2 linked regions of the Homo sapiens genome follow. The protein of the gene in region 1 purifies or fractionates together with the protein of each later gene. This does not show direct contact. Each region holds a gene or a part of one and is shown on either strand. Other genes may lie near its edges.

What was found. The genes of interacting proteins can lie anywhere in the genome.
Region 2: the proteins of PARP9 (region 1) and PARP14 purify together in Homo sapiens (affinity purification with western blotting, with the first as the bait; one study listed by BioGRID). This does not show direct contact.

The regions. Positions count from the first base shown.
Region 1 is NC_000003.12:122,550,801-122,554,300, reverse strand, and holds part of PARP9 (protein mono-ADP-ribosyltransferase PARP9), read left to right. Parts: intron 1-1,661; coding exon 1,662-1,883; intron 1,884-3,498; coding exon 3,499-3,500.
Region 2 is NC_000003.12:122,711,839-122,715,338, reverse strand, and holds part of PARP14 (protein mono-ADP-ribosyltransferase PARP14), read right to left. Parts: intron 2,075-3,500; coding exon of another isoform or gene 2,064-2,074; exon of another isoform or gene 1,916-2,063; coding exon 1,766-1,915; intron 1,468-1,765; coding exon 1,405-1,467; intron 1,078-1,404; coding exon 910-1,077; intron 1-909. UniProt on the Homo sapiens protein: ADP-ribosyltransferase that mediates mono-ADP-ribosylation of glutamate residues on target proteins. In contrast to PARP1 and PARP2, it is not able to mediate poly-ADP-ribosylation.

The sequences.
Region 1 (3,500 bases):
TGGACCAAGAAAGATTGCTTCAGAAGGTATGAGTTTTGAATGTGATCTCAAGTTTCGATGGGTATGATTGGCAGGAGGGGAAGCTTTCTGGGTGGTCAGAGTGACTTGATCAGAGAGATGCAGAGGAATTGACAGAAAATAATGGGCTTGACTACAGTCAGGAGACACAGGTGGAGCTCTAAGTCATAGTCTGTGTGTTTATACACAGAATATAACTCTGCCAGGGGCTGTGGAGAATGCAAGGTGCAACTAAGCATTTAGCTGGGGGTCACTGGGCACAAAGGTGAGGATGCTGGCAGGGAAGGGGAAGGAGTCAGGGTAGCGGTGAACCTAGGTATTTCTGAGTCAGTGCAGCTCCCCTGCTAGACGGAGAGCACCTTAAAGATGGAGATCTTGGCTTATTCATCCCTATAGCCTCAAGGCCTGGTCTGGGCATGCATCTAAGGGTTCAGCAAATTAAAGATAAATAAGTGGAGGGGGCAGGAGGGAGAAGGCACCACAACAGAGGGTGAGAATGAATATAAGGCTTTATTCTTTTTTTTTCTTCTGGATCAGTGATGTCACACTTAAGACTCTCGTGACCACAATCAAATAGTCTTAGACACTGGTAAAACAAACAAACCAATAACACTTATTGCCTATAAGACAATTAGAGGGAAGACTGAGGGGAGTTCATGAAATGAAATATTTGAGAAGTCATTAACACACAAATTTAAAACTAAAATGGAAGCATCCTAGTTGAGTAACTTATCCCTTTAACTGAATTTTTTAAGGTATATTTATTGCCAGCAACGTTAGGAACATTACAATTTTTAAAGGGTGTCGGTGCCCCCAAATTGCAAATTCTAATTGTGCTTTCAAAATGAAGCATTCATTAACATCAGTGAAGAAATACCTGAGTTACCCTGAAAGGGAGCCAAAGTCAATAGAATGATTAGGGGAATCTGGGCATGGGGGAAGGAAGGACACTATCATTTTTAGCACAGCTCTGAGGGTTAACTAGGAGACGATGTTATCTAAAGTACAGCTCATGTATATGTACAGTCTATTTCTGAAGAGAGAGATGAAGAACTTGGTTGCACATAAGATGGGTGGGTGAGTGGGGGGGTCTGGGAACCTGACCAAGAAGGGGACCTACTTTTCATTGAAGACCTTTTTGTCCCATTTGGAGTTTCTTTAACCTTGTTAAGTTTCTTATACCTTAAACCATAAAAACATTAGAAGGTGGAAATTCTCCAAGAAATTTTATTTCCTATTTAAAACGAGACAAAACAAAAACCCACGACGAAATAGCAAAAAGTCATGGTGGTCGGGCAGAGATGAAACCATTTATCGACAGAACTTAAAACAAATCACAGGGAATACTCAGAATCTAGCCATCTGGTAAGGTAATACAGCAAGGGGCAAACAGATGTTTGCAATGAAAATTATATCATCCGTACATTTACATAATTTCTGAATTATGTAATTCAGCTTCGTTCATGGCAATCAAATAATCACTCTTTGGAAATACGAGTTTCTATTCATTATTAATGAAATTTTTTAGAATTTAGGATCTTCAAAGAGTATTTTTCAAAGCTCTTCAGGGAAGTAAAGATTTAAATTAGTCATTTAAGAAGAAGGAATTTAACAATGAATCCTACCCTTTCTTCCCTTTTCAGGCAGATGTAATTGTTAATTCTGTAAACCCACATGATATTACAGTTGGACCTGTGGCAAAGTCAATTCTACAACAAGCAGGAGTTGAAATGAAATCGGAATTTCTTGCCACAAAGGCTAAACAGTTTCAACGGTCCCAGTTGGTACTGGTCACAAAAGGATTTAACTTGTTCTGTAAATATATATACCATGTACTGTGGCATTCAGAATTTCCTAAACCTCAGGTAAGTTTAAAATAAATGTGGCTTTATTTAGCTCCATAGTCTATACAGTCTTTTTTTTTTAAACAAATTTCCATCATTTCATTACATTCATGAAATATTTTGTCAAGTGGTATAGTTCTCAATTTTTAGCACACCTGCGAGTACCAGAAATACTGAACAGGTACAGTTGCCATAAGTTATCTTAAGAAGTTTGATTTAGGTCTGTCGCAGTGGCTCATGCCTGTGAGTCCAGCGCTTTGGGAGGCCAAGGTGGGAGGATCACTTGAGCCCAGGAGTCTGAGACCAGCCTAAGCAACATAGCAAGACCCCCATCTCTACCAAAAAGAAAAAAAAAATTAGCCAGGTGTGGTGGTGCACACCTGTAGTCCCAGCTACTCGGGAGGCTGAGGTAGGAGGATCACTTGAGCCCAGGAGATTGAGGCTGCAGTGAGCTGTGATCACACTGCTGCACTCTAGCCTGGGTGACAGAGACTGTCTCAAAAAACAAACAAAACAACAAAGAAGTTTAAAATGTTACCTAACCCATGTCTAAATTTTAAGTAGGCATACTGCAGATAGACACTGAAACTAGTATTCCCTCAGTCTGAACACTGGTTCACCCCAACATACCCAGTGACCTCGTTGGCCTTTTCCTAAGTAGGCAAGGGATTCAGCCTCTTATGTCCCTCCATGTGTTATATTCCTGGAGCAGCTGGGGTTCCCCCTCCAGCATCATTCCAATCAAATCTATTACCTGAGGTCTCTTCCCACCCATGCCTGCAGTGGAGCCTGGCTGTCTAGCCCACTCTCCACTGAGGCACATAAAATACAAGCATTAACGAACTCAGGAGGCAAAGGTTGCAGTGAGCCGAGATCGCGCCACTGCCCTCTAGCCTGGATGACAGAGTGAGACTCTGTCTCAAAAAATAAAATATAAAATAAAATAAAATAAAAGCATTAAAGAATAGGAGGAACCCACTCAGATGGTGAAAAGAGGGAAACTTAATCCCCTTCTCTGCCTTTGTCTATCTTTCTTCTTCACCATTTCTGGTCCCTTCTTGAGAGCTCTCTAATCCCAAACTGGTCCTCTAGTCTCCCTCTATCCCTCAGTTTTCCAAAGTCCTTCCATGGGCAACATTCCTGTATTACTTTGATGTTAACAGTTGGTAGAAATTTAAATCTGCCAAAAATATTAGCATTTCTCCAAGAGAAATTACATGATAGATCTTAATGATGTTGAATAAGTGCTGCTTTCTTATTTTAATCTCGATCTCCTTTATGAAAATTCAAGGGCTCTTGACGTTGACCTGGAAGGGGCAGGTGAATGGGGTAAACAGATGGTTGGCTCTCTGACCTGGGGGGATGGGTAAGGCTATATAAACTGGGAGAAATTCTAGTGCCCTCATGTCCTGAATAGCACAAGATGGCCACTCTATTGCTTCAGTTTCTCACCATCTAACCTTATACCATAATGGGTTCCCTCTGGAGTGGGACCTTTCCTGTCATCTGAGGAGGCAGGGACACGAACCCTGAGGGAGGGTGAAGGTGGACATTGTAAAATATGGGCAGGATCAAGGGGTAAGTGGAGTCTTGTTCTTGACTCAAATGCTGATCTTAAATTTGTGTTTTCCTGCAGAT
Region 2 (3,500 bases), 160 kb from region 1:
GCCAGCATAAGAGATTCAAACTTAGATTCCCGAGCAACAGAATGACAGATCCGATGCTGACTATTCTCGCACTGGAACAAGGCAGCTCCGTTGACTTCAAGCCTAAGAATGCATGCCTCCCCTGACCAGCTCTCTGAAGGAGACCAAGCAGGGATTCCTAAAGAGCTCAAAGAACACCTGTGCAACAAAACTGCACATTCTGCCCATGTACCCCAGTATAATTAAAAAAAAAAAACCACCTAATTAATGATAAATCCAGAGCGCCATCCTTATATATGAAAAATCACGCTATCATTACCTAGTTTTAGGAAAAGAAGAAAATCAAAGAAGCAAGTAGGCTGAAAAGAGGAAAGTGGAGAGTTGAGTTTCTGACCCACTAGGTTCTGGTGACTGAGAAGCTTCTACACAGAAATGCCCTGAGGCCAAGTGACACAGCTGACTGTTGAGCTGAAGCCTGGTAATATTCCTCTGGGAATCAGCTAGAGTGAGGTGGAAGTTGTTGTACTAATATTCTCCATGGAGAGGGGAAAGAGGAGGAAGCTAAGGACTGCATAATGGAGAATATGTAGGGAATGGAAAAAGGGAAAGTAACTGAGGAAAGAGAATGAGGGATGGCCTTTCCACTCTCTCCCTTCTCTTCTCCTCCTTATTTTCCCTTCCCTTCTTTCTGCCTCTCTAACATTCTAACACTCTCTTCAGTCTCCTGCATTTTGTCCCTCTTTTACTCAAACAATCCACAGGCTTTGTCATTCCCTTGGGAGTTGTCTTATGGGGAGGAAGCTGTCCACTCCTAGCTTAATGGTTGCTGCCCTGGGTCAGACTCAGCACTGACCGCATTCACACTCAGCTCCAAATGAAAGGGAAAGTAGATGGCTTGGGATTTAGCCTTGACAGCCAGAGGCTACGAACCTGTCCCAATGGCTGGGAGGCAAATGGATGAGTAATTTTTTTTTTCACACTCCTGCAAAACAGAGGAAACTGAACTCTTGACATCATTTCCACCAATTACATGAATGATATTCTTGCACCTCAAAAATCCACCTCCGGTGATTATATAATCATTTTTGCGCTGCTGAGCTGGGAAACACAGACAAAAAGATGCAAAATTAGTAGAAGTTGAACCCGTCATTTGTTTAGAAAGCAAAATGTATAACTTGGCAAGTAAGCATTTTGTGAAAAAAAAAAAACTCCTGAAATACTATCTTTGATGGAATGCTATGACTTAACTTTACTTTTAACTGTGAGATTACTTTTCACTTCTAAGTGTCTGTGATTGGAATTCTTTAGTAAAATGTATCATTTTAAAATTAGAGTGTTGTCTCCCCAACCCTAAGACTTTTCTCAGCCTCTCCACAGCCTCCCATACAATTACAACTTAGGACCAAAAAATAGAATATGCCTTACCTTGCTGAGAACATTCCCTTTCTACATTTTGTCCAGCACATTCTAAAATTGCTTTGGAGACCCCTACATGAGAAAATCAAGATGATAACAAACATGAGTAAAAAACCACTATGGTATATTTGGATCAGAAGGATTATCTGAATGCATTCTCCATCATCTGAGGAATCCTCTAATTGGGTATTGCTGATGACAAAGAAGAAAACTTCATAAAATAAACATTATTAATTATGGAAAACCCTGTCAGCATAATTTAAAAGTTATTAATTAACAAGCCAAAGTTCTAAAAACCAGTTTGGCTATAGAAACCCTCCTTCATAGCATCTACCATTAACTATTGCACTCATCAAAATTGTACAAGTACCTGCTTTGAGATTGAATGAGTTTGATGTTGAATTTACAATCACATCTGCCTCTTCTTTCGTGATATCTCCAGAAGCCACCTGGAAGATGATGGAGCCAATCTTCATTTCATACACACCTGAATCAGGGCTAGAAACAGTCCCATAAAAACCTGAAAAGAAAAGAAGTAAAGTCAATAACCGAGTCAGCCACAGCAAGAATGACTTGGGTATCCTGCTCACATGGGACCCTCTTGGATGTCTTCCCTCTCCCTCTCTTTCTGTGACCTCTGGTCTTTAACCTGGCCCTGCTCCTCAGCCTCAGTGATGATCTGTTTAAGAAAAAAGAATTAGAACATAGAATCCATATCAAACATGAACTCTGGTGCTGACCAAGGTGAAGTTAGCGTACTATAGCCTATCTCTCCCGTTGATTACAACTAAAAACAGGACAAATACAAAAAGCCACCACCCAAGAGCTCTGAAAAGTTACAATAACAGCAGACAGATTGAAGAAAGGTGCCAAAACTTGCAGAAGCAATCTGCTAAGTGGGGCAGTTTTCCATTTTGTTCTGTTTTAAAATTTTTCCTCTTTTCTCTCCCAGCTTTGACCCAAGGGTGGCCCTAGTCTCACAACATAATATTTAAAATGTCAAGTCTGTATTCCAAAATTGCTTGTTATATAAAGAACCAGGAAAATTTGATCAACCCTTAAGGATAAAGAAAATCAAAAGCTGTCAATCCAGCCAGACACAATGGCTCATGTCTGCAATCCCAGCACTTTGGGAGGCCGAGGTGGGTGGATCACTTGAGTCCAGGAGTTCGAGATCAGCCTGAACAACATGGTGAAACCCCATCTCTACAAATAATACAAATATTAGCTGGGATGGTGGTGCACAACTGTAGTCCCAGCTACTTGGGAGGCTGAGGTAGGAGGATCACCTGAGCCCCCAGAGGTTGAGGCTGCAGTGAGTTGAGATTGTGCCACTGCACTCCAGCTTGAGTGACAGAGTGAGACTCTGTCTCAAAAAAAAAAAGATGTCAATCCTGGCCAGGCATGGTGGCTCATGCCTGTAATTCCAGCACTTTGGGAGGCCGAGGCAGGTGGATCACTTGAGGTCAGGAGTTCAAGACAAGCCTGTCCAACATGGTAAAACCTTCTCTCTGCTAAAAGAAAAATACAAAACTTAGCTGGGCGTGGTGGCACAGGCCTGTAATCCCAGCTATTTGGGAGGCTGAGCAAGGAAATCACTTGAACCCGGGAGGCGGAGGTTGCAGTGAGCCAAGATTGCACCACTGCACTCCAGACTGGGCAACAGAGCAAGACTCCATAGAAAAAAGAAAAAAAAAAAAAAAGATGTGAATCCCAAAAAGATGTGAATTATAGAAGACTTTAAAGCATCTACTATAACTATGATCCATGAGGTCAAAGTAAACACATTTGAATGGATGGAAATGATGTGGAATGAATGGAAAAATAGGATGTCTCTGCAGAGAAATAGAAACTATTTTAAAAAGACCTCAAACAAACAAACAAAAAAAGATAAAAATGAAACAAAAAGCTGGTTCTTTGAAAAGATAAAGAAAATTCATAGACCATTAGTGAGATTAACCAAGAAAAGAAGAGAGAAGATCCAAATAAGCTCAATTAGAAATGAAACTGGAGACATTACAATCAATGCCTCAGAAATACAAAAGATCATTCAAGGCTGCTATGAACACCTTTACATGCACAAACTAGAAACTCTAGAGGAAATG